Linked DNA regions of Homo sapiens: regions 1, 2, 3, 4 and 5 are each linked to region 6. Evidence: fine-mapped expression QTL. A gene starts in region 6. Each other region holds a variant in brackets. All regions are shown on one strand. Distances are from middle to middle.

Region 1 (5,227 bases), 130 kb after region 6:
AGCTAACAATAGTTAAGGTGCCAACACCTGTGAATCATTTGTCATTATATGCAAATTAGAGGCCCGTGGCAGTGGCTCACGCCTGTAATCCCAGCACTCTGGGAGGCTGAGGCAGGAGGATCACTTGAGCTCTGGAGCTTGAGACCAGTCTGGGCAACATGGTGAGACCCCGTCGCTACTAAAAATAAAAGCGAATTAGCCAGGCCTAGCAACGAGTGCCTGTAGTCCCAGCTACTGGAGAGGCTGAGGTGGGAGGATTGCTTGAGCCTGGAGGTCAAGGCTGCAGTGAGCTGTGATTGCTCCACAGCACTCCAGCCTAGGCAACACTGAGATCTTGTCTCAAAAAAAAAAAATTTCATATATATATATATATATATATATACACACACATATAAAAAATATAATGTATATATATAATATAATGTGTATATATAGAGATACACACACACACATATATATATATGTATGTATAATTAGAGCAGATATGAGGCCATTCCTCTCTTTCCCTTGCATTCTCAGAGAGAAAAGGCCTGTGTGGGGGCTCTGCTGGGTGCCCTACATGCCTGCAGCCCTCCTGAGCCTTGTTGGAGACTATCACTGATCTCTGCCCCAGTTAGGATGGTTTCAAATTGGTCTAGTCTAGTGCTTTACTGGCTTCCCAAAAGCTTTGGGCTAAGTTCAAATGGGGGACTCCCCTGGAAGTGTGCCTCAAAAGCAGATGTCATCCACACTGTGTTTCTCAGCAGGAAGTCTCCCCACCAGCACAGCTGTTCTCCACTGTGACAAGCATAGGAGCCCCCAGGGACTGTGCTGAAGAGCAGATTCTGATGAGCAGGGCCGGGTGGGGCCTGAGAGTCTGCATGTCTAATAAGCTCCCAGGGGACACCTTGTTGCTCTCCAAGGACCACATGTGAGGGTCTACACCACTTACTGACAATACTGCTCTAGCTATGACCAGCTGGAAAGGCTTCTGAAGAGGAGCTTCATAGCTAAGCTGACCAACCCTCTTGGTTTTCTTGGGGCTGAGAGGTTTGCCCAGACTTGAAACCTGGGATGGTCCCAGGGAGACCAGAATTCTTGGTTACCCTGTGCACAGCTGTGGCCCAATACAATTAGTTTAGGTAAAGCCTTGACATAGACGCCTGAGAAAGGCTCAAGAATGCTTACAAAGAAACAAACAAGGCATTGTAAATCAATCTAGTGTAGAAAAAATACTCTTAAAGCACCGAGGGAAGGTAGATTAAATTCAAGGTCATCATGAAACTGAGCTTCTTGAGAGCTGAGTTCTGAGTGGGATGGGATAGAAAAGGGATTAGGGAATGATCTAGGTTGGGATGAAGGAAAGGGCTCCCATTGCTATACATGCCCGCTTTGGTTAGCGCTGATTTCATGAAAAGCCAGGTTCATCTGAGTTGTCAGAACCTACAAATCATATTCAAGTGTGTGCTGTCATATTTGTATTAAATTCCTGTATCTATATATTTTAGGTCACTTTCTCTCCCCAAAAGCCATGGCAGTTAACCTGGCCCTAAACCTAAGTTGCCCTGGCCTCCCTGCCCAGGTGCCTTCTAGAGAATGTCACATAATGCAGTGGTTTAATGGACTTCCCTGGTGACCACAGCCCTGGTCTGGATGTGGTCCTGTCTGCCCTGCCATGTGCCATGTGACCTAGGTAGAAAGGGAGTCAGTGTCTACCTGTCTGTGCCTGTCCTCCTGCCCTTACAGGGATGGCTGAGGCATGAGGGCTCTGACAGCCCTGGAGACACACAGAACCTCACCAATATGGAAGAGTCTGGGAAAACCTTGGGGCCACCCTGAGAAGGCACTTCACAACAAAGACTGCACACAGTACTTTTTGGAGGGCAGCCATATTCTGGCCTATGGGTTTGGTTCCTAGAACTCGAAGTATGTGGGTTTCCTGAGTGTGTAAAATCCTGAGAGATGGTAATAAACCACACCCTTTGGGATGAGGTACAGAGAGCCTTCATATTTATAAAATATATGAGGCCAGGCATGGTGGCTCACACCTGTAATCCCAGCACTCTGAGAGGCCAAGGTAGAAGCATTGCTTGAGCTCACGAGTTTGAGTCCAGCCTGGGCAAC[A/G]TAACGAGAGCCTGCCTCTACAAAAATAAAATAAAATAAAAAGTTAGCTGGGCATGGTGGTGTGTGCCTGTGATCACAATTATTCAGGAGGCTGAAGTGGGAGGATTGCTTGAGTATAGGAGTTTGAGGCTGCAGTGAACTATGATTGCACCATTGCACTCCAGCCTGGGCAACAGAGTGAGACCGTGTCTCAATTAAAAAAAAAATATATATATATATATATATATGTATGCATGTATATGTGTGTGTATATATATATATATACATATGTATGTATGTATGTATGTGTGTGTGTGTATATGTATATATGTATATATACCGCTTTATTTCTTTAGCAGTGGTTAAGATTTGAACTTTGGAATCAGGCAGAACTGTAGGTCCAGCTCTGGCATTTTCTCACCCTCTAGAGCCTGGGTTTCCTCATCTGTAAAATAGAGATGGTAACAGTGCCTCCTCTTCGGGGCCTCTGGGCCTTGGCCGTCACACAATGCTCCTCCAAGAGCAGCTATGTTATCACTACTCTTATCTCACAGACAGCTGGAGGAGGGTCACGGGGGCAGCGGGCGCTCTGCAGGAGGCCTCCTTTAAGGGCAGTTGTCATTAGCACGCTGTTAGCAATGGGAAGCTCCAAGATGCTGCCAAACCACTTGAAAAGATGTGTTAGAAATCCCCATTTGGTAAAGAACAAAATTCTCAGTTCACAGAGCTTAGTCAATGCTTTTGTTGTCATTGTTGTTAATAAATGCTTTATTTTTGAAGAGTTTTAGATTTATAGAAAAGCTATAAAGATAGTACAGAGTTCCCATTTCTCACAGGGGTCCTGCACTGGCTCCCTGCTGGGGCGGGCTTGCAGTAGTCCAGTGGTTCAGTTTTGGTCTGGCTTCCTTTTTTCTGTGGTGACTGTCTAGCCCACAAGCTGAGTTATGGAGATGCTGCAGCTTTTCTGTTTGTAAAAATGACCTTGATCCCCGCCTACACTCGTTTCCTCTGTGTGCACAAACACACATGTGCACAGGCCCACCCACAGCATGCGGTCATGCAGTGTGAGGAGCACACCCACTGAGCTAGGCTCAGGTGACCCCTGACTGCTACCCCTTGCAGACCCAAGGTCGATCAGAGCCCCTGCAGAGGAAGCACTGTTACCATCTCGTGGCTTCTGGATGGTCCAGAGGGGGCTTTCTTGGAGATAAGTGAGCCAGACCTCCAAGAATCTGTAGGGTGGGTGGGCACATTTGGGTGTTCTCTTTTGCAGATGAGAAGTATTCATGGTGGCCTGAGGCTTGAGGCTTAAACACTATGAGCCTCAGTTTCCTTTTTTGGAAAATGGGAATAAACCAATGCTTCAGTCCTGGGAATGTGGTGAAGAGTGAAGGAGAAGCATGAGTAGCACCGGGCCTGGCACGGATGAGTGCGGTGCTTTTATCATTCCAGCTGTGTGGACCACACCAGCCACACCAGGTGGACATGTGGCCTCAGCTCACCAGATTCTCCTGCCCTCTGCCTCTGCCCAGGGTGGAGGGGAGTGAAGGCAGTGCCACAGCCCGGTACAGACCTGAATCATTGTATGCTTGACAGGCTCCAAGGCCTCCTTAAGTTAGGTCTTCACTCTGTGTACCATGACATTCCTCCAGAAAAACAAAAGTGCAAAGAACATCTTCTAATTTAAAACATGTTTTATGGTCGGGCTTGGCGGCTTATGCTGTAGCAGGATGAGCCGCAGACAAAAGTCCTCAAACTCTGAATTAAAGAAGGAAGGGGTTTATTCGGCCGGGGGCATTGGCAAGACTCCTGTCTCAAGAGCCGAGCTCCCCGAGTGAGCAATTTCTGTCCCTTTTAAGGGCTCACAACTCTAAGGGGGTGCACATGAGAGGGGCATGATTGATTGAGCAAGTGGGGGGTACGTGTCTGGGGGCTGCATGCACCGGTAATTACATCGGAACAAAACAGGATAGGGATTTTCACAGTGCTTTTCTATCCAATGTCTGTAATCTATAGATAACATAACCAATTAGGTCAGGGGTCGATTTTTAACTACCAGGCCCAGGGTGTGGCGCCGGGCTGCCTGCTTGTGGATTTCATTTCTGTCTTTTAGTTTTTACTTTTTCTTTCTTTGGAGGCAGAAATTGGGCATAAGACAATATGAGCGGTGGTCTCCTCCCTTATTCCCCCCCTTTGAGAATCTCACTCAATAGTGGGAGTTCTCACTTTCATTTTTACTTCCCATGTCTTCTTGCAAGACAGATCGATAGTGATTCACATAGTACATTGTGCTGAAGCATTTTGGTGAACTAAGGTAGTGATGAAGCTTTTTATCATTTGAAGAAGTACAGGTAGCAAACAAGGGAGCAGTAAGCAGGTTCCTATTACTATTATAACTCTTATTATAAGAGTTTTAAATCCTCTTAGTGCTGGGAACCATTTTCCAAACATGGCCCCAGGATCAAATCTATGCCACACTTGTACGGGCACATGTGCCAGTTTTGTCATATCTCTAACTATGTCTTCAACTACTTACCCTTGATTATCTATGTGTAGGCAGCAATTAGTAAGGTTAAATTTCCTGCAGACCTCTCCTTCAGCTGTAGTCGAGAGCTGATCTATTTTGATAGATAGCATTTCTCATCTGAGTTTCTTGCCAGGCCAGAATAGTCAAGGCTCTGCTGGTTTTACTAGTGATTATTTTTAAGACAGCTTGTAACCGTATGATTCGGTTGATCATGTAAATGGGGGTCCGGTATCCTCACGAGCTGTCTTGTGCCTAAGTAGCAGGCCTATAATATTGTATGATTCTCTCAGGGGGCCATTTATCATTTTTTCAATTTCCTATAGCTATGCTTCTCTTTTCGCGGGAAGCATAGACAGGGAAGCCCAGGAGTTCGCCTGTTTTTGTGGGCAGTAGGAAGAAAGATGGTTTAATAGTGCTAATAACACAACTACCTGCCTACTGGCCAGGTAATCTGGCATAAGCTGTTTGCCCACATATCCAGTATAATCCAGTGGGGGCTGTCCAGTCCTGGTGTGACTCTGGGTAGGTCCACACGGTTTGCAACTTTGGGAATTTACTAAATGGATTTCTTTCTGTGTGATTTGAACTCCACCAAGTGACTGTTTTTGTGGTACCATT
Region 2 (5,227 bases), 270 kb before region 6:
TCAAAGGAAGAGGTAGCGTTCCACAGCTTTCTGAAGCATACGGACTGATAGGAGACGGAGGCTCTGAGATACTGGTACCAGCTCCTTCAATTTTGCTTGATTTGGTAGGACCTAGAGAGTCCTTACTAAGGTCTTCCTGGTTACCAGCAAGGCAGCACAGATCCAAATGAAGATTTTCAACTTGGCCATCAAGCTCAGTCACACAGTTACAACTCTTCACACACTTTTGTTTCACACTCTCCAGACAGCTTGAGTCTAGCCTCCTCTTTACTCTATTTCTAGACTCAGAGCAAGCCTCTGCTTGGGATGACTTCTGGCTCACAGGAATAAGGGCTTTTCTCGGAGACATGATCTTGGTCTCCGAAGCAGGTGGAGTGATGGGTGGTGATGAGGAAGGTGTTCGGGTCACCCAGTTTCTAATCGACATCTTGAAAGATGAAGGTGGCTTGGGAGAGACGGAGGAGACAGAGCCTCTTCTGTTGATGGGAGACCGGGCCTTGGCAGGAGAGGTTTTAATAGAGAACGTAGGAGTATTTGAAGGAAGAGGGAGGTCTCCAGCACAGCTTGGGGCACAAGCTGCGGATGACGGGGAAGAATTGGATGGATTGCACTTTGCCCTGGGGGCTTTGGCAGGAGTACTCTGGCTACTCGTTACTGTTACTGAAAAAGAGGAGAGGATCATGAAGATCAGAAGTGAAAGCCATACAAAGTCCCTAAATTCTCATCAAGAAAAATCATAGCTAACCTAATCATCTAAGGGTCAATTTGCCAGTAAGTAGGTATACATCACTTGATTCCAACCACACCCTTTTATCATTTTCCTTTCTCTTTTCCAAGTCACCAACCTCCCAACTATCCCATTATAAAATATATACTTGTAAAAATCGACAAAATACCGAAAAACATAAAGAGAAAAAATTTAAAGCACTTACGTAAACCATGTTTAGCATACTTTCTATATTTGTGCATGTGATACATACTATACATCTCAACTTTTTTCTTTACAAAAATGAGACTGATTTAAGGGGAAAGTGGCAGATAGGAGGCAGGACTAATTTGCCACTCAGACAGACAGAACAGCATGTGGAGACTCACATAGTGAACTTTGGCTCCAAGAACTATCACAGGAACATACCAGAAAAAACAAAAGAATTAACAGATCCTTTGAAAGAAGTGGCTTGCTGCTGCAAAATCCACAAGACAGCAGAAAAATTGAGTGCCCAAAGTGTGAGAGGGCTCCCGAAGCTGTGTGCTTGGTCGAAGAGGACAACCATTCCTGATAAGAGGAGAATCGGTCTTCAGTCAAGGGTATACGAGTAAATGTGCTCCCCTGCTAGAACCTCCAAACAAGCTCTCAAGGTCCAAAGTGTGAGAGGGTGGCTGGGTGTGGTGGCTCATGCCTGTAATCCCAGCACTATGGGAGGCCGAGGTGGGTGGATCACTTGAGGTCAGGAGTTCAACACTAGCCTGGCCAACATGGTGAAACCCTGTCTCTACTAAAAATACAAAAATTAGCCAGGCATGGTGGTGTGCACCTGTAGTCCCAGCTACTCAGGAGGCTGAGGCAGAAGAGTTGCTTGAACCTGGGAGGTGGAAGTTGCAGTGAGCCAAGATCGCATGCACTGCACTCCAGCCTGCCTGACAGCGAGACTCCGTTTCAAAACAAACAAACAAACAAACAAACAAACAAAAAACAGTGTGAGAGGGGTAAAGTCCACTTCTGCACACATCCTCACTGAGGATCCAGATCATGGGAGAAGGAGAACTGAAATGAATTTAGAGAGCCAAACAAAATATAAAAGTAGAAGCAGCAGCAGGAAGAGCCCTGTAGGCACTCCTGGTCCCCAGGGAAACCATTTCTGACTATCTCACAGGGGTCTTTGGAGAGGGCAGCCAATGGAATTGGGGAAGGACCATAGGGAGAAGGAGACTTTCAGCTGAACTTTGTAATGATTTCAACTGAGCGTGAATTTTCCTGGGCAGAATCTGCAGGGGGATGGGACAAATAGGAAGTGCAGATATGAGCACAGAAGCTGTGGCAGGCAGATGGACAAGGCCTAACAGCCCTGCTTGCTTTCTCGGCGGGGAGTTTTGTAGTCTAGGGCAAGATCTCCACCCTGTGCACTGGAGGCATGGATATAAATTTGGTTCTGTTGGCTGTTGGGGAAGCACTGCAGGAGTGAGACTGGCCTTGCTGGCTGTGGTCTGTCACTGCCGGCTTTCCCCTATTTCCCTGGTGATGTGTATGAAGCAGCAGAGGCAGCCATAATCTCCCTTAGAACGTAACTCCATTGGCCTGTTAACCACCACTCCCATCGCCCAGAGGCCACAGCAAGCCCTGCCCAAGGAGTCTGAGCTCAGACACACTATCCCTGCCCCCACCAGATGGTCTTTCTCTAACCGCCCTGGTAGCCGTAAACAAAAGACAAAAACTCGTGGGGCCCTGCTCATTGCCTGAGAAGCCCGAAAACCTATCCAGGAAACCGTAAGGCAAGCTTATATCCCCCGCTATACTACTGCAGTTGATACTCTCTTGAAAGTGCCACCTCCTGGCTGGAGGCCAACCAATTCAAGCCATTACAGCAATTCAACAGAACAACCCTGCTCCAAGAAAGCAGAAAATAACAGCTAATTCTACTGCCTGTAACATCTTGGCCAACCAGAGAGGTCCTGAGTCTGTCCATGTAATAACTTCAGTGCTAGTATAACTAGCATTCAAGACAACCAGTACACTAAATAAAACTACAACCAAGTACTCTCACACAGTCCACTTCACTCCTTTCCTACCACCTCCATTAGAGCAGGTGCTAGTATCCATGGCATACAGACCTGAAGACAGATCACATCACAGGACTCTTAGCAGACACTCTCCAGTACCAGCCTAGAACCCAGTAGCTCTGCTGGGTGGCTCGACCCAGAAGAGCAATAACAATCACTGCAGTCCAGCTCTCAGAAAGCCCCACCCCTAGGGAAGGGGGAGAGCACCACACCAAGGGATCACTCTGTGGGACAAAAGAATTTAAACAGCACACATTGAGTCCCAGATCTTTCTTCTGACATAGTCCACCCAAACGAGAAGGAACCAGAAAAACAATTCAGGTAATATGACAAAACAAGGTTCTATAACCACCCCTAAAAGATTATACTAGCTTACCAGCAATGGATCCAAACCAATAATAAATCTTTGAATTGCCAGAAAAGAATTTAGAAGGTCAATTATTAAGCTACTCAAGGAAGCACCAGAGAAAGATGAAAACCAACTTAAATTTAAAAATAAAACAAAACAGGATGTAGACGAAAAAAATCTCCAGAGAAATAGATA[T/AT]CATAAATAAAAAACAATCATGACTTCTGGAAATGAAAGACACATTTAGAGAAATGCAAAATACACTGGAAAGTTTTAACAATAGAACCAAACAAGTAGAAGAAAGAATTTTGGAGCTCAAAGACAAGGCTCTTGAATTAACCCAATTCAACAAAGACAAAGGCAAAAGAATAAAAACTTCTCTGGCCTTGCTCGAGATCTAGACATCCAAATACAAGAAGCTCAAAGAACACCCAGGAAATTCATCACAAAAAGATCATCACCTAGACACACAGTCATCAGGCTATCTAAAGTCAAGATGAAGGAAAAAATCTTAAGAGCTGGGAGGCAAAAGCATCAGGTAACCTGTAAAGGAAAAACCTATCAGATTAACAGCAGATACTCTACAAGCTAGAGGGGATAAAGGTCTTATCTTTAGCCTTATTAAATAATTATTAGCTGACAAAATAATTATCAGCCAAGAATTTTGTATCCAGTGAAACTAAGCTTCATAAATGAAGAAAAGATGAAAGTCTTTTTCAAACGCTGAGAGAATTTGCCACTACCAAGCCAGCATAGTTTACAAAAACTGCTAAAAGGAGTTCTAAATCTTAGAGCAAAACCTTGAAATACACAAAAATAGAATCTCATCTCATAGTGGGGGACTTCAATACAGTAAGTCAACATAGAAACAATGGACTTATACCCTAGAACAAATGGACTTAACAGGTATTTACAGAACATTCTACCCAACAACTGCAGAATATACATTCTATTCATCAGAACATTCATGGAACATTCTCCAAGATAGAGACCATATGATAGGCCACAAAACAAGTCTCAATAAATTTAAGAAAATCAAAATTATATCAAGTACTCTCTCAGACCATAGTGGAATAAAATTGGAAGTCAACTCCAAAGGGAATTCTTAGAACCATGCAACATTAAATAATCCGCTCCTGAATGATCTTTGGGTCAATAATGAAATCAAAATCAAGCTGGAAATTAAAAAAATTCTTTGAACTGAATGAAAAAAGTGACACAACCTAACAAAACCTCTAAGATACAGCAAAAGCAGTGCTAAGAGGAAAGTTCACAGCATTAAGTGCCTACATCAAAAAGTCTGAAAGAGCACAAATTGACAATCTAAGGTCACACCTCAAGAACTAGAGAAATAAGAACAAACCAAACCCAAACCCAGGAGGAGGAAAGATATAACAAAGACCAGAGTAGAACTTAATAAAAATGAAACAACAACAACAAAATACAAAAGATAAATGAAACAAAAAGCTGGTTCTTTGAAAAGATAAACAAAATTGATAGCCCATTAGTGAGATTAACCAAGAAAAGAAGAGAGAAGATCCAAATAAGTTCAATTAGAAATGAAACAGGAAATATTAACAACGAATACCACAGAAATACAAAAGATCATTCAAGGCTACTATGAACACATTTGTGCTCACAAACTAGAAAACCTAGAGGAGATGGATAAATTCCTGGAAATATACAACCTCCTAGATTAAACCAGGAAGAAATAAGAACTCTGAACAGACCAATAACAAGCACTTAGATTGAAATGGTAATAAAAAAATTGCCAAGAAGAAAAAGTCCAGGACCAGATGGATTCACTGCTGAATTCTATCAGACATTCAAAGAAGAACTGGTACCAATCTTACTGAAACCATTCCAAAAGAGAAAGAGGGAATACTCCCTAAATCATCCTATGAAGCCAGTATCACTCTAATACCAAAACCAGGAAAGGACATGACAAAAAAGAAAACTACAGACCAATATCCCTGATGAACATAGATGCAAAAATCCTCAACAAAATACTAGCTAACCAAATCCAACAGTATATCAAAAAGATAATCTACCATGATCAAATGGATTTCAAACCAGGGATGCAGGGAAAGTTTAATATACACA
Region 3 (5,227 bases), 91 kb after region 6:
AATGTTCCTCTCAGCTGCTGCAGAGATACAATTAACCATGAAAAAAGCCCTGAAATTAATTATTTTTTTTTTTTGGATGTGGAAGTGAAGTGCATTTTAAAAATTTTGCCCTATATAGTAGAAGATAAAAAGAACATTTTTATGTTAGACCAAAGGGGATACAGATTTCAATCTCATAATAGTTTCTTTCTTTTCTGAATTCTAGTGTGGAACTAGAGTAGGTAATAAATTCTAGGCCACGATGGCCACTAGTGCCCGAATATCCCTCTGTCATGGCGCCATCAAGTGTTAAGGGCTTGTCCAAGTAGGAGCCCAGGAGCAGCAGAACCGGGGACTTCAATTCGACCTTGGCCCTTTGGCAAGTTTCTTATCCTCTCAACCTCACTCTCCTTATGTGTTAAATGGGAAACGCTCAAAGACTTCTTTTTTTTTTTTTTTCTGAGACGGAGTCTCACTCTGCAGCCCAGAGTGCAGCCGCGTGATCTCGGCTCACTGCAACCTCTGCCTCCCGGGTCCCGGTTCAGTGATTCTCCTGCCTCAGCCTCCTGAGTAGCTGGGACTTCAGGTGTGCACCACCACACCTGGCTAATTTTTGTATTTTTATTAGAGACGGGGTTTCACCATGTTGGCCAGGCTGGTCTTGAACTCCTGACCTCATGATCCGCCCACCTTGGCCTCACAAAGTGCTAGGATTACAGGCGTGAGCCACCATGCCTGGCCAAGACTTCTTTTCAGTATTAAGTGAGATTATATACAGGAAGCACATAAGACACTGGCACATTGTACTGAATGTGCAGTAAGGAGGCTGTGTTTATCTCACCCCAACTGGGTTTAACAGAGGATGTAAGTTATTCTCATATTGAGATGTGCCTAAACTGCAAGTGATGTGTTCCATGCATACCCAATGCAGTGGCTCATGCCTATAACCCCAGCACTTTGGGAGGCCAAGGCAGGAGGATCACTTGAGCCCAGGAGTTTGACACCAGGCTGACAGGAGATCAGCCTGGCCAACATGGTGAAACCCCGTGTCTACTTAAAAAAAAAAAAAAATTAGCCAGGCATGGTGGTGTGTACCTGTGGTCCCAGCTACTCGAGAAGCTGAAGTAGGAGGATCACTGGAGCCTGAGAGAATTGAGGCTGCAATGAGCTGTTATCATGCCCTAGGTCTCTTGGTTTTTAAGTTAGACACATGCAATCAGCATAGCCAAGTCCCTAACCCCACACAGTCAGACTATATTTAATATATCTAAGGCTCCAGACAGCAGTGAGAAAAAGCTTTGAGGTTGGAGCGCCAATTAGGAAGGTGAGGAGACGGGGGCATAAAGAGGAAATCAGATCTACTAGACAAGACATTACATAGGCTTAATAGGGACCTATTTTTGCTTCTGAGACATGATGTCACTTGTGGTGAAGACCTTGAACTAATTATCAAAATGGAGGGAAATATAATTTCTAGTATTTGGAAGCTGTCCACCAGCCCACGGTTCTCTGTATAATTCATATGATTCTAAATATAAAACTACATTGAAAGTGTCCTAATGCTTCAGGAAATTGAAAGTAATTTTGAAAACCTTTCTCCTTTCTAGTTGCAGAAGTCTCAGAAGTTTATATCTTGAGAATTGACACTTTACCTTCCAGTGGTAAGTTCTGGGTGCTCAGTTCTTAGTGGGTATCAGAAGGAAGTGGGCAGATTAGAATAAGATATTGCTTATGGCTATTGAGGTTATCATGGTAGAGCACAAAGAAACGAGGCAAAGCTGGATTAGCAGGTGTGTATTCGAAACTCTGCCCTGCTGGGGGTGGGGGTGAGGAGATGAGAAGCAGGTGATGTTTCAAAGCCCCATCTGGCCCTAAGAGCCTTTGATTCCCCAGACAAATATCCAACAAGCTGTCCAGCCCACCATTCACGGAACTTCAGAGTAACACCAGAAATTGGGAATTCCAAGAGAGAGAGGCTTCAGGGCCATGATGAGGTTATGGAACAGTTCTCTTAGAGAAGATTTGGAAATACTTCAAACCATCATCTGGTGGGAAGCTTGGCATAAACAGCAACTCATGGATATGGAGATGGCTGCTCAGGCATTACGATATTCAGAGTGGTTCTGGGCTAGCTTATTATAAAGAAGACC[CG/G]TCCTTGTTTTCCCAAAGGATGGCTAGAAAAAGCAAGGGAATGAATGAGTTAATGAATGTGGAATTAATAAAGCATTTCTTCTTGGAGGCAGAGAAATGGAACAGCTGATTACTGAAAGCCAGCCTTCAGAATCTGTGCCATGTCCGATCAGGAATAATAATTGAAATTGTCATTGGAGCGATGTCTGAGGGATGCAGAAACCTGGTGTCACAGGAAGCATTGCCTCAGACTCTGTCTTCCTCTTTATTAGGCCTTGGAGAGGAAGGACAGCAGGGTTACCTCACCAGCCCAGCTCCAGCTCCCCTTCACCCCCCGCCCAGGTACCTGTCTGACTGCAGCAGGAGATTCTAGCACAGAGGGTGCCAGCAAGCAGGGGTGCTCAGAGGGTTTCTCATTTGAAAGGTATTTACTGTTAGGGGAGAGTGGGAGGAGAGGAGGGGCAGGCATGGGTGGGCAGAGCATAGGTACTAGGAATCTGCAAACCACAGACAAGAAGCAAGTGAAAGTAAAGATCTGAGGGTTTGCTGTAAGCTGCATTAGCAGGAGGAGCACTGGGCCTGTGGGAGTGGACACATGTGTCTCCTTCCAGGGGCTCCTGCCACAGCCTCAGCCTCAGACATCTCAAGGCTCAGTGTGTGTGTCTGTCTGCCAGTGTACCCCAGGGGGGCCTCATGGTGAGGCTTCCTCTGCCTGGGTTGCTCCTGGCATGGGCTCCAGCTTTTCCCCTCAACCCTGCAGCCCACTGGAAGACATAAGCTAAAGCTGGTGGGGACCTCCACTCTGGGTACCGTCCCTGCCCATCCCCTCTGGCAGTCGCTTTCCTAACTGACAGGTATTGGTGAAGTGCTCAGGATGTTCTTGGTGGGCGTATTTCCTCCAGGTGGGGGTGGCGTAAAAGCCACAGCCTTTTAGAAGCCTCTGTTTCTTTCCTTGACTGGCACTTTAAAAGGTGTGTGCTCTACCGTCATCACTAGGAGAGGGAGGCTCTGTGATCCTCCTTTATTCTCCCATCTTTCCACCGGGGTCTAATACATTTAACAAGCCTATGAAAAGGCTGCCTACCTCATGCCATTTTCTGACTGTTATTCAAAGTGAAGGACATCTGAAAAAAGACATTACATTACCTACAGCCCAGGGTGGAGCGGGGAGGGAATAATTTAGTACAAGGAATTAGGAGGCATTTTTTCTTTTTTGACAGGCTGAAAGGCTTCCTAGGTGAGATTTCCATCGCTGGTTGAAGGAAGGGAAAAGGCTGAGTGGGAGGTGCAAGGGCTGCTAATCTGAAAATTACCGGAATTTCCTTAATTTCCACTCTTTAGAAAATGTCTGCTGCACAAGGAGAGGGTGGTGAGAATCCAGTGAGATAATCCTCATGGAAGGGTTTGGAGAACCTTGTAACACTTCACCAGAGTGAGGGGCAATGACAATTCGAGTCCACGATAAAAAAATAAAATAAAATAAAAAAAGGCCCTTTCTTGTCACTAGAAGAATTCACAAAGAGGCTGGGTGAGCCTGTGCCAGGGTGCTGGGTGGGAAAACCCACTCTGGTTGGGGGATGGACCAGCTGGCCCCTAAGGCCTGTCTCCCCCTGGCCCCTAAGGCCTGTCTCCCCCCAGCCCCCAACTTCCATGCGCCGTTGTCACAGGGACCCTGATAAAAGCTCCCACTGTGCCTGGGTTTCTGTTGTGCTCAGAGGAGGGAAGAAACAATGAGCTCAGCTTGGCCAGAGGACAGGTCTCATTTTGCTCTCATCACTTACAGAGGCCTCTCCCCAAGCAGCAAACTACCAGGCAGGACCAGCTACGTTGTCTGTGTGACCCAGTACAAAATGAAAATGCGACTCCCTGTTCAAAGAGCATTACGAATTTCAAGTCGGCAACAGAAGAGCAGTAAAACGCAGGCACCTCATGAAGGCTGCCCTGTCATGAGAACCACGAAGGAGGAAATGAGGAATGGGAAGGAGCCAGGCCCCTGGGGGTGGTCCATGTCCCCTTGTTGTCCCTCCTGCCAAGGCACTGCACAAGATGTTCTTAGAGAGGAGGAGATGTGAGTAGCAAACTGTAGGGTGTGGAAGCTCAGCCCGCCAAGGCATCCCAGAACTGTGCCCTGAAGGCCAGGAGACCAGGCATCCACCGACCATCCCCCGGTGGTTAAGGGCTGCCCCTGCAGTGGGTGGAAAAGGCTCCCATGGCACCAGAGAAGCCTCAAGGCCTGAAGCTGAAAGGCCCTAGGTGTGGGAAAGATGCTGCCTGGGGTAAGCGTGAGTCCCACGGAGCAGGAGCCACCTGCCACAGGGCAGCTGAACACTGAGCCAAGGGAACATGGCCAGGGGCGCCTAAGACATCTGCACAGGGGCCACCAGACTTCCCGAGGAACCAGCCTCCCAGTGCAGCATGGGGTGGGGTCTGCAAGGTCTGTGAACAAAATAACATTTGTGGTGCTCTGTGAATTCACGTGCCCTTCCTTTCCTCACTGACTGCAGTTGTCCATTATTTGAGCTGCCCCCTTTCCCACCCACTGTGCAGTCACACCATGGAACCACAACCAGGTTGCACAAGAAAGCAGGACAAAGGGGTGGGATCAGTCAGCTAGTGTTTGCAGAATGTGTCTACTGGGTAGACTGGAAAGGGGCCTAGAGATGGGACACAAGCTCTGCCACCATTACAGTCACATGTTGACATGTGCAGATGGCATCACAGAGATTAGCTGTGGCGATGCTGAAGGGCTTTGGGGCAGGGGTTAATCCCTAGGGGCTGCCTAGAGAGGGAGGCACAAAGCTCAGGGAAAGGTTCAGAGCACATTTCACTGCTGGCAGAAGGATGCTGGAGACTCGTGCTGCCTCCATCCTCAGTCGCCCGGGCAGCAGCTCGCATCCAGGCTCCACCTGGCTGCCTGCCTGACACTGCTCTGGATCCAGCAGGCCAGCTCAGATCTCCTTGCCAAGTTCTTCCATCCCCAAGGCCCTCTTTCTTGGCCACATTTCCTCGAAACCACTTTCTAGGCCCTTGTTGCCTCCCACATTGTTCTGAGAAATGGGCTGGCAAACTACCCAGGCCAGAACCCCTGAATCTTCGAGCAGAGAAGCAAGCTGATCAT
Region 4 (5,227 bases), 220 kb before region 6:
TGCACTCCAGCCTGGGTGACAGAGACTCCGTCTCAAAAAACAAACAAACAAACAAAAAACAAAAAACAGGCCATTTAAACCAAATACATGATAAATTTTTAGGTAGAAAAAAATTATGTTGTTTATCAGCCTTATAGCTCATTTAGATTTTACAAGCAGAGTTAAAGTAACTCTGTTTTACAAATAGTTAATGAGTGCCCAGTACAAGGTTTTAACTTCAATGAACAATCAAGGTTGAACAATGGTATTGTAGCTGTTTATAAATCTTTACCTTATGTGCAAGATTACAGAAAAACTTATCAAAGACTCTTGACTTTCAGGGACAAGCTAGAGATAATGTCCAGAAGAGTGGGCCTAAAACCAATTTAATTTTATTAAGGTTTTCAGTCATGTTAGAATCTTAATCACCTGGCTGGGTGCAGCGGCTCACGCCTGTGATCCTAGCACTTTGGGAGGCTGAGGCAGGTGGATTGCCTGAGCTCAGGAGTTCTAGACCAGCCTGGCCAACATGGTGAAACCCCGTCTCTACTAAAAATACAAAAATTAGCTGGGCATGGTGATGTGCGCCTGTAGTCCCAGCTACTCCGGAGGCTGACGCAGGAGAATCACTTGAACCTGGGAGGCAGCGGAGGTAGCAGTGAGCCGAGATGGCGCCACTGCACTCCAGCCTGGGCAACAGAACGAAACTGTCTCCAAAAAAAGAATCTTAATCATCTATGTAGGTAAAGCAGTAACTTTGACAGGGGAAAGGGTAGAAACAATTACAGGTTCTTATCTCCCAACTGCAAAGAAGGTTAAGGAGATGAAAGAAGATAAGCACAAACCTACCTTTCTCAAACTTAGAAAAGGCAACTGACTTGAGGCTGCATTGATGACCTTTGCATGTTCCAATCAGCTCACCAGCTTTTACGTCCCAAAATTTGGCTGTTTGATCACCTGCTGCTGTAACCTTTCAAAAATAAGGTAAACACAATTTAATAAAGCACTCCCTTATCAGTATTTACCCAGATCCTAATGAAATAAAGTCACTTACAAGTTTAAGTTCACCAGGAACCCAGGCCAGGTCAAAGACGGCATTCCAGTGAGCCATCCATTCTAAACAAAGAAAATGGTAAATGTGAAATGTCTAAATTGTATTCTGTGGTACCCATATTAATATAACTTTAAATGCCTGGAAAGCTGTAGTAGTAAAAAGATCAGTAGTTGATCATTAGAGAAATGCAAATCAAAACCACAATGAGATATCATTTCACGTCAGTCAGAATGGCAATTATTTAAAAAGTCAAGAAACAACAGATGCTGGCAAGGCTGCGGAGAGATAGCAACAGTTTTACACTGTTGGTGGGAATGTAAATTAATTCAACCGTTGTGGAAGACAGTGTGGCGCTTCCTCAAAGACCTAGAACCAGAAATACCATTTGACCCAGCAATCCCATTACTGGGTATATACCCAAAGGAACATAAATCATTCTATTATAAAGATACATGCATGCATATGTTCACTGCAGCATTATTCACAATGGCAAAGACATGGAATCAACCCAAATGCCCATCAATGATAGATTGGATAAAGAAAATGTGGTACATATACACTGTGGAATACAATGCAGCCATAAGAGGAATGAGATCATGTCCTTTGCAGGGACATGGATGGAGCTGGAAGTCATTATCCTCAGCAAACTAATGCACAAACAGAAAACCAAACACCGTATGTTCTCACTCATAAGTGGGAGCTGAACAACGAGAACACATGGACACAGGGAGGGGAACAACACACACTGGGGCCTCTTGAGGGGGAGCATGGAGAGGGAGAACATCAGGAAAAATAGCTAATGCATGCTGGGCTTAATACCTAGGTGATGGGTTGGTATGTGCAGCAAACCACCACGGCACATGTTTACCTACGTAACAAACCTGCATGTCCTGCACATGTACCCTGGAACTTAAAATAATAAAAATAAAGATGCACACATAAAAAATCAGTAGTCAGCACCCTTTGGCATGAGCAAAGAGAATTTGTGGACTCACAGAAATTACACATTCCCTTAATTACCACATGAGAACTACTACCATCTGATGTCAAATTCCTTTCCATGAGTTCACTAGTAATATATTCTCTACAATGGAATCTTTCTGAAATATATTCCAGTTCAAAAATCTTCATGATACTGGCTGGGCACAGTGGCTAACACCTGTAATCCCAGCACTTTGGGAGGCCAAGACAGGCAGATCACTTGAGGCCAGGAGTTAACCAGCCTGGCTAATGTGGTGAAACCCCATCTCTACCAAAAATACAACAACAACAACAACAACAACAACAA[A/CAAA]ACCAAAAACAAAAAGAACTTCATGATGCTCTCTGAATGGAATGTAAAATACTTTAGTTTGACATTCAACATTTTGCATTCTTTAGTCTTTATCTTGGTTGCAAGCCTCATCTCTCACTGTTCTCGATACCTTATTCCAAACAAATTGGTCACTTCCTATTATATCCTATGCTTTTCTATCTCTAGACCTTTGCTAATGCTTTTCCCGTCACCTGGAGTGCCCCCTTCCATTTCCACTGGTCTAAATACCATAATCCAACTCAAATGCCCCATGCTTCGTAAGTTTTCCTAGCCTTCTTTACTACATGAGAGCTTTCTCTTTGACACCAGTGTGTTTTCTTTCTACTTCTACATCATTTATAGTCTTTGTTTTATTTCAGTTATTTCAACACTTGACTTATGGGTTCCAAATTATCAGCTTCTTAAGGTTAGAACTTTGCTTTAAACATGAAAAATGCTTGATTAATATAAGTATTTTAAAGCAACACTTCTCTAATCACATTAAGTGTTAAAGATTTAACTTTTTGAAGAATTGTTTTTAATCCTAAAAAGTATTTTTCTTAACTTTGAGTAAAGGCATTGTCACAGTTAACAGTTATTGACAGATAGGCAGTCCACCATTCACATCTAATCTGGTCCCTAAAAAGACTTAATCAGAAGTTAATATCATTGGGAATGTGTTATATATACTACAGATGTTTGTCCCTTCCCAAATCTCATGTTATAATTTAATCCCCAAAGTTGGAAGTGGGACCTAATGGGAGGCATTTGGGTCATGGGGGTGGATCCCTCATGAACAGATTAACGCCCTCCCTAAGAGGTGAAAAGATGAGTGAGTTCTCACTCTATTAGTTCCCTGGAGAGCTGATTGTTAAAAAAGAGCTTGGTAGTACACCCTTCTCTTGCCATGTGACCTCTGTATTCATGGGCTCCTCTTTGCCTTCTGCCAGGAGTGGGGGCAGCCTGAGGCCTTCACCAGATGTCTACTATTCTAGCCAGCAGAATCACACACCAAGTAAACTTTTTCTATATAAACTACCCAGTCTCAGTTATTCCTTTATAGCAACAGAAGACAGACTAAAACAGAATGTGTTCAAATAATAATATACTTGAGGATGTGTAAAGTTTTTTAAATGTTAAAACAAAAATTGTAGACCTAGACTTACCTTTGAAGCACTTCTTTCTGAAACTTTGTGATTCTGTGTTATACAATCGAACAAAGCCTTCTTCATTGGCAACTGCTAGTACATGTTCCATATTGGGAGCTAAAGCAGAAATAAAGAAAAAAATATATAGAGTAACACAATTTTTTTTTTTTTTTTCAGACGGAGTCTTGCTCTGTCACCCAGACTGGAGTGCAATAGTGCAGTTTGGCTCACTGCAACCTCCACCTCCTGGGTTCAAGTGATTCTCCTGCCTCAGCATCCCAAGTAGGTGGGATTACAGGCATGCGCCACCACGCCCAGCTAATTTTGTATTTTTACTAGAGATGGGGTTTCACCATGCTGGTCAGGCTGCTCTCGAACTCCTGACCTCAAGTGATCCACCCACCTCAGCCTCCCAAAGTGCTGGGATTACAGGCGTGAGCCACCATGCCTAGCTACAAAAATTTTTAAGCTTACTCAAAACCACCAAAATTTTCTTCAGATAATCTCTTATTTAGAGAAGGGCTAAATCGAGGGTAGTACTTAAAACAAGAGTGGTACTGGCCAATGGCAAACAAAGGCATATGATGATGTAGGCTGCCAGCAGGCTGAGTCTATTAGTTTTTTTAACCATATTTTTATTTACTTATTTTTACCACAATCATGACTATGTAATAGTCTATTAGTTTTTGAGAGACAGTCTCGCTATGTCACCTAGGCAGGAATGCAGTGGCGTGATCTCAGCTCACTGCAACTTCCGCCTCCCAGGTTCAAGCGATTCTCTTGCATCAGCCTCCCCAGTAGCTGGGACTACAGGCATGCACCACCATGCCCGGCTAATTTTTATAAGGAGTCTATTAGTTTTAAATTTCCTTGTCACAACTTTTTCTTTCCTCTCAAACTATTATGGGTGGAGACAAATACTTCTATTTCTTTTTTTTTTTTTTTTTTGGAGATGAAGTCTCACTGTCACCCAGGCTAGAATGCAATGGCACGATCTTGGCTCACTGCAACCTCTGCCTCTCAGGTTCAAGTGAGTCTCTTGTCTCAGCATCCCAAGTAGCTGGGATTACAGGGGTGCGCCACCACGCCCAGCTGATTTTTTGCAATTTTAGTAGAGATGGGATTTCACCATGTTGGCCAGGCTGCCTTGAACTCCTGACCTCAAGTGATCCACCCGCCTTGGCCTCCCAAAGTTCGGGGATTACAAGTGTGAGCCACTGTGCCCAGACCTACCTTGGCGTCCTAAAGTGCTGGGATTTTAGGTGTGAGCCACTGAGCCTGGCTGAAGTACTTCTATTTCTGTTCATATATTCCCCAATGAGTCACAGAAAGATACATTCAACCAGATCAAAGGGTATGTATCTACTGGATAAAACAGTTTTCATAGTAGCTGAACCTTTGCAACCCCTTCCTTATATTGATTTTTTAAAAATAGTGCTATAATAGTCCTATGCTTTAGAGGAAATATAGTTATGCTAATGATGTATAGAGATTAAGAAAAGTCTATTTTATAAATCAGAAGATAACAGTTTTTACAAAAACTCTAACATCCACCTAATTTACTTTTCTTTGAAAGGGAAATACTCTAGTATATTTTCCCTATAAGTGTGAAATAGATCATTTCTGTCCAAGCCTTGCCTAGATAGTAATTCTCTTACCAGAAGAGAAGGTACATCCAAAAGGAGGAACTGGGACTCCTGTTTCTCCATAAGAAGTGTGTTCATCATTACCACTGCACTGATAACCAGTCAGAAGGGA
Region 5 (5,227 bases), 310 kb before region 6:
TGCGCATATTCCTCCAGGAGGTCACTGGAGTGATGGTAAGTGGGTCTACACCTTGGTTGCTGGACCTATGTATTCTGCCCACTGGGGACACAGTGTCATATCATGGTTGTTGATTTAGGATGATACCCTAGAGGATGACACCTCAACTTTGTGGGATATCAACTCCAATTTGGCACCTCAGCTGCATCATTTTAAAATTGTTTTTTAATTTTTAATTTTATGGATACATAGTATATATTTATGGGGCACATGAGATATTTTGAAACAAGCATACAATGTGTAATATTCACATCAGGATAAATGGGGTATTTATCTCAGCACCATAGGAAAGGTTTTAAAAAATGGAGTAACTGTCACTTTAAGCATTCATCATTTCTTTGTGTTATGAACATTCCAATTGTACTCAGTTAATCTAAAATGTACAACAAATTATTGCTGACTGTAGTAACCTTGTGCTATCAAATACTAGATCTTATTCATTGTCTCTAACCATATTTTTGTACCCATTAACAATCATTTCCCTCTCCCCCTCCTGCCACGACTTTCCCCACTACCTTTCCCAGCTTCTGGTAATCACCCTTTTATTCTCTATCTCCATGAGTTCAGTTGTTTTAATTTTTAGCTTCCACAAATCAGTGAGAACATGTGAAGTTTGTCTTTCTCTGCCTGGCTTATTTCACTTAACATAATGTCCTCCAGTTCCATCCATGTTGTTGCAAATGACAGGATCTCATTCTTTTTTATGGTCGAATAGTAATCCATTATGTATATGTACCACATTTACTTTAGCCATTCATCTGTTGATGGACACTTAGGTTGATTCCAAATCTTGGCTATTGTGCATAGTGCTGCAATAAACATGGGAGTGCAGATATCTCTTTAATATACTGATTTCCTTTCTATTGGGTGTGTACTTAGCAGTGGGATTCCTGGATCATATGGTAGTTCTATTTTTAACTTTTTGAGGAACCTCCAAACTGTTCTCCATAGTGGTTGTACTAATTTACATTGCCACCAACAGTGTACGAGGGTTCCCTTTTCTCCACATCCTTGCCAAAAATTCCTATTGCATCTTTTGGATAAAAGCCATTTGAACCAGGATGAGATGATATCTCACTGTAGTTTTTATTTGCATTTTTCTGATAATCAATCATGTTGAGCAACTTTTCATATATCTGTTTGCCATTGATATGTTTCTTTTAAGAAAGGTCTATTTAGATCTTTTGCTTATTTTTAATTAGATTATTAGATTTTTCCCTATTGAGTTGTTTGAGCTCCTTATATATTCTTATTAATCCCTTCTCTGATGGATAGTTTGCATATATTTTCTCCATTCTGTGAGCTGTCTCTTCACTTTGTTGATTGTTTCCCTTGCCATGCAGAAGTGGTTTTTTTTTAATTTGTTTTTTGTTTTTTAGAGATGGGGTCTCATTATGTTGACTAGGCTGGTCTTGAACTCCTGACCTCAAGTGATCCTTCCATCTTAGCCTCCCAAAGTGCTGAGATTACAGGCATGAGCCACTACACCAGCCCTGTGCAGAAGTTTTTAATTTGAGGCAATCCCATTTGTCCATTTTTGCTTTGGTTGCCTGTGCTTTTGGAGTATTAAGAAATCTTTGCTCTGACCACTGTCCTGGAGAGTTTCCCCAATGTTTTCTTTTAGTATTTTCATAGTTTGAGGTATTAGATTTAAGTCTCTCTCTTTTTTTTTTTTTTTTTTTTTTAAGACAGTCTTGCTCTGTCGCCTAGGCTGGAGTGCTGTGGCACAATCTCAGCTCACTGCAACCTCTGCCTCCTAGGTTCAAGCGATCCTACTGCCTCAGCCTCCCCAGTAGCTGAGATTACAGGCGCACGCTGCAGCACCCGGCTAATTTTTTTTTGTATTTTAGTAGAGACGGGGTTTCACCGTGTTGCCCAGGCTGGTCTCGAACTCCTGAGCTCAGGAATTCCGCCCACCTCGGCCTCCCAAAGTGCTGGGATTACAGGCGTGACCCACTGCACCTAGCCAGATTTAAGTCTTTAATCAATTTTGATTTGATTTTTGTATATAGTGACAGACAGGGATATAGTGTCATCCTGCATATGGATATCCAATTTCCCCAGCACCATTTATTGAAGATATTGTCCTTTGCCCCATGTATGTTCTTGGCACCTTTGTCAAAACTGAGTTCACTGTAGATGTATGGATTTATTTCTGGGTTCTTTACTCTGTTCCATTGGTCTATGTGTCTGGTTTTATGCAAGTACCATGCTGTTTTAGTTATGATAGTTCTATAGTATAAGAAGTTGGGTAATGTGATTCCTCCCACTTTGTTCTTTTTGCTCAGGATGGCTTTGGCTATTCAGGGTCTTTTGTGGTTCCATATAAATTTTAGGATTGCTTTTCCTTTTTCTATGAAGAATGTCATTGATATTTTGATAGAGATATAGAGAGTTCATTAAATCTGTAGATTGCTTTGGGTAGTATGAACATTTTAACAACATTAATTCTTCCAATCCATGAACATGGAATATCTTTCCTTTTCTTGTGGCCTCTTCAATTTCTTGCATCAATGTCTTATAGTTTGCATTGTAGGGATCTTTCACTTCTTTGGTTAAATTTATTCCTAGGTATTTTATTTTATTCATAGCTATTGCAAATTGGATTACTTTCTTGATTTCTTTTCCAGGTTGTTCACTGTTGGCATATAGAAATGCTACTGATTTTTGCAGGTTCATTTCGTATCTTGCAACTTTACAGAATTTGTTTATCAGTTCTAATAGCTTTTTTTTCAGCTGCATCTTTAAGCAGCCACTCCATCACTCTATCAGGCCAGTAGCTTTGGGGTATGAGATAGAACTAGTGCATACCTTGGTCACGTGCCCACTTCCACACACCTTTTGCTGAAAAGTAAGGCCCTTGGTCCAAGCCAAGGTTATACTCAATCTCATGTCAGTGGAGCAAATGTTCTCTGGATACTGGTGTTGGCTGAGGCTCTACTG[G/T]TAAGAAAGGCAAATTCAAATTTGGAAGATCAATGTGGAATATGTTGTTTTAAAATTAAACTTTTATTTTTGAGATAATTGTAAATGCACATGCAGTTGTAAGAAATACTACACGTACCCTTTATCCAGTTTCCCCCAAAGGTAACATCTTGCAAAACTGTAGTACAATATCACAACCAGGATATGGGCATTGATACAACTACCCAAACTTATTCAGATTGCTCCAGTTTTACTTGCACTCATGTGTGTGTGTGCATGTGTTTAGTTCTATCAAATTTTATCACATGGTAGGCTTGTATATCCACCACCGCCATCAAGGTACAGAACAGTTCCCTTCCCACAAGGATCCCTGTGTTTGCCTTTTATAACACACTCATCTCTCCCTCCCTTTCCCTGTCCCTAACCCTTGACAACCACTAATCTGTTCTCCATTTCTACAATTTTGTCATTTCAAAAATATTTTAGAAAAGACTTAAAAAATTTTATTTTAAGTTCAGGGGTACATGTGCAGGCTTGTTATATAGGTAAACTCATGTCACAGAGGTTTGTTGCACAGATTATTTTGTCACCAGATATTAAGCCTAGAACCTGTTAGTTATTTTTCCTGATCCTCTCCTTCCTCTCACCCTCCACCCTCAGGTAGGCCTCAGTGTCTTTTGTTCCCCTCTTTGCGTCCATGAGTTCTTATCATTTAGCTCTCACTTATCAGTGAGAACACGTGGTATTTGGTTTTCTGTTCCTGCATTCATTGCTAAGGATAACGGTTTCCAGCTTCATCCATGTTCCTGCAAATGAAATGATCTTGTTGTTTTTTATGGCTACATAGTATTCCATGGTGTATATGTACCACATTTTCTTTATCCAGTCTAGCAATGATGGACATTTGGGTTGATTCCATGTCTTTGCTATTGTGAACAGTGCTGCAATGAACATACGTGTGCATGTGAGAATGCTTTATGTTCCTTTGGGTATATACCAAGTAATGGGATTCCTGGGTTGGAGGGTAGTTCTGTTTCTAGCTCCTTGCGGAATCACCACATTGCTTTCCACAATGGTTGAACTAATTTACACTACCATGAACAGTGTATAAGCATTTGTTCCTTTTTCTCTGCTCTCTGCAATCTTGCCAGCATCTGTTACTTTTTTACTCTTTTTTTTCTTTTTTTTTTTTTTTTTGAGATGGAGTCTCACTCTGTTGCCCAGTCTAGAGTGCAATGGTGCAATCTTGGCTCACTGTAACGTCCATCTCCTGGGTTCAAGCAATTCTCCTGCCTCAGCCTCCCGAGTAGCTGGGATTACAGTCATGCACCACCATGCCTGGCTAATTTTGTATTTTTAGTAGAGATGGGGTTTCTCCATGTTGGTCAGGCTGGTCTCGAACTCCCGACCTCAGGTGATCTGCCCATCTCAGCCTCCCAAAGTGCTGGGATTACAGGCGTGAGCCACCGTGTGTGGCCTATTTTTCGACTTTTTAATAGCCATTCTGACTGGTGTGAGATGGTATTTCATTGTGGTTTTGATTTACATTTTTCTAATGATAAGTGATGTTGAACTTTTTTTTTTGAGATGAAGTCTTGCTCTGTCGCCCAGGCCTCAGCCTCCTGAGTAGCTGGGATTATAGGTGCGTGCCACCATGACTGGCTAATTTTTGTATTTGTAGTAGAGACAGGGTTTCATCATGTTGGTCAGGCCAGTCTCAAACTCCTGACCTTGTGATCCACTCACCTTGGCCTCCCAAAATGCTGGGATGGCAGGCATGAGCCACTGTGCCTGGCCCAATGTTAAGCTTTTTAAAAGCATTTTTATGAAATGTTGGAACCATACAGTACAGAATTGACTCTTTTTATTCAGCATAATTGCCTGAAGATTCATCCAAGATGTTGCATTCATCAATAGTTCATTCCTTTTTATTGCTGAGTATCCCATGGTATGAATGTACCAGTTTGTTTAACCAGTCGCCCACTGAAGGACATCTGGGCTGTCTCCAGTTTTTTGGCTGTTATGAATAAAGCTTCTATGAACATTTGTATACAGGTTTTTTTGTGAACATAAGTCTTCATGTCTCTGGGATAAATGCCCAGGAGTACACTTGCTGGGTCATATGGTAATTGCACATTTGGTTTTATTAAAAACTGCCAAACTGTTTTCCAGAGTTTCTGTACCATTTCACATTCGCACCAGCAATGTATGACTGATCCAGTTTCTCCAAATCCCTGCCAGCCTTTGATGTTGTCATTATTTTTTA
Region 6 (5,227 bases):
AGGTAAAACTAACTAAAACGAACTTCGAAATGCAAGAAATAAACACAAGCATCATCTGAAATTGTTCCCTTAAGAAGTCAGCCCTAACAGTTTCTTATCTATTATAGCAGCTGAATTATCTTGAAACTGATATTGTGGTCAGAAAGTTAAGAAGATAACCCCTCTCCTACACTCTTGGCACAAAACCAGGGCATATCTATACCTGGAACATAATGTGTTGTACTGTTGGTTGAGTTTCAAGAAAAGTCCAATGAGGTTGGAAGCAGTTAATATGAGGATATCTGAAAAGATCAAGGAGATTAGGTATTCCCTACTCCTTCCATAAGGAGGTACTGAAATGGCAGAATTCTGCAATGAGAGATGGTGATCAGCAAGCCGAGGGGACAGGCCTCAGAAGAAACCAGACCTCCCCACACTTTGATCTCTGATCTTGGCCTTCAGAACTTCGAGAAAATAAGTTTCTGTTGTTTAAGCCACCCAGTTTGCAGTATTTTGTTATGGCAGCTCTAGCTGACTAACACACATGAGAACACATATGATCAAATGATTTAAAATTATGAAGGGTCTAGAAGAGAATGTGATCATCTCAGAATACCTCTAAGTCAGGGTTTCTTAAAGCAAGGTCTGCATACTACTTGCATCAGAATCACCTATGACGCTTTTTAAAAAGCAGGTTCTCAGGTCCACTGGACCTAGATTATTAAAATGTTCTGGTATGATGCTGAAGAATCTGTCTCTTTGGTAGACACTTCAAGTGTTGTTTTTGTACACTAAAGAGCCAGAGGTCCTGCCCAACCTCTGGCTCTTTTCTGAGCCTGAAAATGAATTCTGGGCCTGGTACTAATTGCATTTCATCAAGTGCTGCTGTGTCTGGTCCTCTGGCAGATGGTCCCTGATCCAGGAATCACGTGTAAATCCCATTGTAGGTTATCTCTCTCCAGGTGTCAGCCAACGTTTACGCAGCATGTGGGAAAGCTGAATTGCATGGACCAGATGGAATCCTTAGAGTTTATTCTTGATTGTGGAAATAAATATGTACCTCACCTATCTTACTGAAGAATATAATGACATATTTTGAATAATAAAGTATATATATTATCTCTCTCATGAGATTTATTTAAAGATCTTACTACCTTGTCAATAAAGAGAGAATGCAAGGAATAGAATGGGGCATATCTTTCCTTCACCTGTGGACCTAAGAGGAACTGAAATTAGAGAAAGTTGAGAGTCCAGAGCAAACGCTGTGATGAACATTTTCAAAATAGGCAGAATAGGTGGCATTCTGATTCAAATATGGCAGTTCCCTAGGGAGTGTGAAATCTGCCCTGCCCCATCCCCTCCATTTACAAATGTGCTTAAGGGACATAAGGTTTTATAAACAGGATTTTTAAAAACTAAAATTTAGGCAGATCATTTAAGAATGCTCAAGGGGGTAGGTCAATGGACTATTTCTCTATTTTCCTTCAGGTGGTCCAGCCTTTGAACCAGAATGCAGCTATAGTATCCCAAGTGACGGGGTCTGTCTAGGAGTTCCCATGGCCACTGTTTTTTGTCTTTTCGGTTTTTCTTTTTATGGCGGGCGGGGGAGGGCGGGCGGGTGAGTACTTACTTAATGCCAGGCACTTGGTTGTTTTTTCCTTCTTGACTAACCAGATTTCAGTTTCTCTGTGTAGACCATTCATTCCCACTGAGTTTCTTGGTGGGGTGGTGGGGGCGGGGGCGATGAATGGGAAAGTGGAATTGCCATTAATGTTCCAGCTGCTTTCCTGAAACAAGACTTTTGACCGTAAAAAGAATGAATTTGAAACTCTAGACAATAATACACTGCAGAGGTTAAGAAGAAAAGCCATGAGTGCAACCGGGTTTCATTAAGAATGAAAAGTGGACATTTAGCCGTCAAGGAGACAGGTTCCTAGTTTGGGCAGAGAAGAGAGCCCTAACAATGAAAGGCGGCCGTGTTGGCTGAAAGGGGGCTCTCAACTGAAACCAAGGCACTCCTGGGGTGTGAGGATGGGTGTTCATTCCTAGATCTTTCCGAGCGGCCCTTTCCCTCAGTATGTTCTGGACTCACTGAGGTCCTGGCCGAGCGTCCAGGTAGCCCCGAGGGCCCCGACTCGCTGGCGCAGGGGTAGGGGGAGCGGGCCAGGCGGGGCAAGCGGGCCAGGCAGCGGCGGCGGCGCTTTCATTAGAGGGCGCTGTGGGAGCGGCTCCGCCGCAGTCCCGACTCCCGCCGCTTCCTCCCGCCGCCCCTCCCCGCCAGTCCGGGCGAACGCGGCCGGGCCCTTGGGGACCGAGTCTCGGCGCCGCCGGGGAACGGGCGCGGGCCGCGCCACAGCCGGAGCGGGGCAGGGCCCCGCCACCGCCTTCTTCCGCCGGCCCCGCCGCCGGCCATGCATTCTTCCGGCTCCTCTGACTCCCAAAGCCCCGGCTGGGGCCCGGCCAGCCCGAGGTAACCTCCGGCTCCGCGGTCGCAGGCCCCAGAGCGGCAGCGGAGCCGGGCCAGGGGAGGCGCTGGGGGCGGGGAAGGGGGTGTCGTCGTCGCGTGGCCCGGGGAGGCGGCAGCGGCCTGAGGGACGAGGGCGCGGTAGGCCCCGGGGAGGAGGCGGGGGCGCGGGGCATCCGCCCGCCTCCCCGGGACCCGCCCGGGTGACAGGTCCGGCCTCTGAGTCCCCGCCGTCCCTCTGTCCGCAGGCAGCCGCGAGGGGAGTAGGGCGCCAGCGCGCCCGCTCGCGCAGCGCCTCGGGCCGCTTGGGCCGCCACCGCGTCCATGACCGCGACCCCTCGGCGGGGGACACCCGCCCCCGCTCTCCGCAGCCGCCCGCCGTCCGCGCCCGCCGAGGTGAGCCCGGCGCGCGGGCCGCGCCCGCCGCCACGACCCTTCCACATCCGCGGAAACCGCTGCAGGCTCCACCGGCTCCCCGCGCTGCGGTCGCCTCTTCTCTGCCCCTTTCATCATCCCCTGCTTCCTTGCCCTCTGGTCGGAAATCTCATTCTCTTCATCCCCAGTTCCTTGGCTTTTACCTCTTTCTGGCTTTTGCTCCCTTCCCCCTACTCCTGTCCTTCCTCTTTTTCGCATTATAACCCCCTACTTTCTTCCTCTCACCTTGTAAGCTTTTTTTCTAGGCCCCCCATTTTTTTTCTTAAAAAAAAAAGGGAAACAAAAACCCTATTGCTACAAATGAGAATTTTGAGGGTAACTCTTCGCTAGAGCCAGAGACCTTTTAAAGGAATGCATCGGTGTGCAGGAATCGTGGTGGTGAGGAGACTGAGGTCCTCAGTATCTGGGAAATCTTATTGAGGGGACCCTGTTTCGGTCATGTCACTTGTGTCTTCAGTTTGGAGATCCTGAGGTTGTCTGAAGCGAGTGGATCTATTTTTCTAAGTCCAATAGACGACCGCAGTGAGACACGGTGCGGGGACGGCCACCGATTACTGAATGGGAATTGTGTTATCATTTGCTAAATATATTGTGACATACTTCGTGCCTCGGTGAACAGCTCCCTTGACCTTGTGCGGCTCCTCCTCCCTCGCTCTCTGTCCCCCTCTGGAATTTCCCCTGAGAGATCACCGAGGTACTACACCCGGAAAGCTTCGACCCTCGCTGTTTTATTTTGTGCTGGGGGCGATTTCTATGTTGGTGACTGTTTAGATGTATTTAATGAATTTTCCTTTTTAAGTGAATTTTTCTTTCACCCCAGAAAGACAGGACGGAGTCCAGTGTGAGAATGGCTATAACTTTGGAAGAAGCTCCGTGGCTGGGCTGGCTCTTGGTGAAAGCACTGATGAGGTTTGCCTTCATGGTCGTCAACAACCTGGTTGCTATTCCATCCTACATCTGCTATGTAATTATACTTCAGCCCCTTCGAGTGCTGGACAGTAAGCGGTTCTGGTATATCGAAGGAATCATGTATAAATGGCTTTTAGGAATGGTAGCTTCCTGGGGATGGTATGCTGGATATACAGGTAAGAGTGAGAACACTTTTCTTTAATGCATAAGAAAAAATTTGTCAGGAACCATGATTAAATGTATATTACACTTTGGGTTGAGGATGCTTTCATGTCTTCACTATTGAAAAAAATAAAAAGAAAACAGTTCTATTGGGTTTCTCTTCAGAATCTCAGGAAGACCAATGTTTTCAGAAGTATAATTTCATAATTATGTATTGGTAAATTTCTTAGTGTTTTTATTGTGATTGACATACATTTATTAAAACTGGTCTGCAAAAGCTCTGGTAGAGGAATAGGAGTGCGTTGTATAGGACTCGAGAGCTTATAAAGTGAAGATGTAAGATATTTCATCTATTTCATGGAAGATGCCCATAAACATTGGAAATTTAGAAAAAGAATGGGACCATATTTGTGCTAAGATAGTTTAATAAGTTTCTTCATCATTTAACGTGATATTGTACTGTTAGCCTTTTGAGCAAGCAAAAATGGCTTTCTTTTCTCTTACGTATGTTTCTTTTGTTTATTAGAATCTATATTTTATCTCATAAATCTGAGAGTATTAAATATAAAAAATTAAGTTAACTTTGTTAAGCTAATTTATCTTCTGAGTGTCTTTAAATAGATTGTGATTTCTGCCTTTAAATTGCATTTGGGGAAGCAAGAGTAACACTATTCAGAAGTGGACTTTTATAGAACTAAATGAGAAGTGTTTATTTTCTGAGATAAACCTTATATGCTTTGAGAACTTATGCCCTTGCTGTGAAAATTCTGTATCGTTTATTGTATTTATTTGATTTTTTTCCCTTAAGAATTAAGATAATGAAAAAATCATAGAGGTTTTTAGCACTTGTCAGATGTGGAGGCTTTTAGCACAGAAATTCCTACCTGATAGGCAGGCTCCTTGAAGATCATGCAGATGCTGTGGTCAGTAGAGGCTGTAGTTCATAGCTTGGCAGAGTGAGGAGGGGTACTCCCAGGGTCAAGCAGTATGGCAGTTCTCCATCTGAAATTCTGTCTCCCTCTTTCCTGCCTAGGCTGCACCTGCACATTTTATCCACACACGCAAGAGAAGGACTGATAGTATACAGCTTTTATGGAGTCTGACAGACCCTTGCTATGTCTGAGTATTCTCAGTTGCCCCAGATGAAGCCTTTTCTCCTTCAGGCAGTGGCATTTATTTATTTATTTCTCCTTCAGGCAGTGGCATAATAATGCAAGAGCTGAAGCCCCTGGGATAGTGTATGCGTTGCTTCCTTGTCATCTGTCTTGTTGAGATTCC

Alleles and levels. Alleles are on the strand shown, and positions count from the first base shown. SD is a standard deviation of normalised expression in the study named. Not every link is listed here.
In carriers of allele G in region 1, the expression in lymphoblastoid cells of the gene that starts at base 2,259 in region 6 tends to be lower than with A alone (moderate effect, 0.70 SD a copy in GENCORD).
For the expression in spinal cord of the gene that starts at base 2,259 in region 6, CG is the high allele of the variant in region 3 and G is the other (small effect, 0.27 SD a copy in GTEx).

Evidence for each region. PIP is the estimated chance that this variant, and not a neighbour inherited with it, causes the effect. A credible set is the group of variants that fine-mapping cannot tell apart.
Region 1: its variant is the best candidate, but not a certain one, in a credible set for the expression of LPGAT1 in lymphoblastoid cells (GENCORD, PIP 0.56).
Region 2: its variant is the best candidate, but not a certain one, in a credible set for the expression of LPGAT1 in whole blood (INTERVAL, PIP 0.67).
Region 3: its variant is the best candidate, but not a certain one, in a credible set for the expression of LPGAT1 in spinal cord (GTEx, PIP 0.54).
Region 4: its variant is the best candidate, but not a certain one, in a credible set for the expression of LPGAT1 in whole blood (INTERVAL, PIP 0.84).
Region 5: its variant is the best candidate, but not a certain one, in a credible set for the expression of LPGAT1 in whole blood (TOPMed, PIP 0.86).

What each region holds. Positions count from the first base shown.
Region 1 is chr1:211,693,158-211,698,384 of GRCh38, reverse strand. No RefSeq gene overlaps it. Among named protein-coding and RNA genes, the nearest start is that of NEK2-DT, 20 kb to the right of the region's middle. RefSeq lists an enhancer at 2,627-3,126. The variant A/G (reference allele first, on the strand shown) is at 2,104.
Region 2 is chr1:212,095,685-212,100,911 of GRCh38, reverse strand. It overlaps DTL (denticleless E3 ubiquitin protein ligase adapter), which reads right to left. Exons shown (of 15, transcript NM_016448.4): 14 at 1-660. It also overlaps the pseudogene RN7SKP98. Among named protein-coding and RNA genes, the nearest start is that of MIR3122, 21 kb to the right of the region's middle. The variant T/AT (reference allele first, on the strand shown) is at 3,323.
Region 3 is chr1:211,736,371-211,741,597 of GRCh38, reverse strand. No RefSeq gene overlaps it. Among named protein-coding and RNA genes, the nearest start is that of NEK2-DT, 63 kb to the right of the region's middle. The variant CG/G (reference allele first, on the strand shown) is at 2,130.
Region 4 is chr1:212,043,019-212,048,245 of GRCh38, reverse strand. It overlaps DTL (denticleless E3 ubiquitin protein ligase adapter), which reads right to left. Exons shown (of 15, transcript NM_016448.4): 2 at 5,128-5,227; 3 at 3,488-3,586; 4 at 1,034-1,095; 5 at 829-949. Among named protein-coding and RNA genes, the nearest start is that of DTL, 9.9 kb to the right of the region's middle. The variant A/CAAA (reference allele first, on the strand shown) is at 2,322.
Region 5 is chr1:212,133,270-212,138,496 of GRCh38, reverse strand. No RefSeq gene overlaps it. Among named protein-coding and RNA genes, the nearest start is that of MIR3122, 58 kb to the right of the region's middle. The variant G/T (reference allele first, on the strand shown) is at 2,983.
Region 6 is chr1:211,827,795-211,833,021 of GRCh38, reverse strand. It overlaps LPGAT1 (lysophosphatidylglycerol acyltransferase 1), which reads left to right and starts at 2,259. Exons shown (of 8, transcript NM_014873.3): 1 at 2,259-2,449; 2 at 3,699-3,963. The coding sequence starts at 3,726. LPGAT1-AS1 (LPGAT1 antisense RNA 1) reads right to left here and starts at 2,061. Exons shown (of 6, transcript NR_135820.1): 1 at 1,982-2,061; 2 at 1,610-1,766. RefSeq lists a silencer at 2,075-2,834.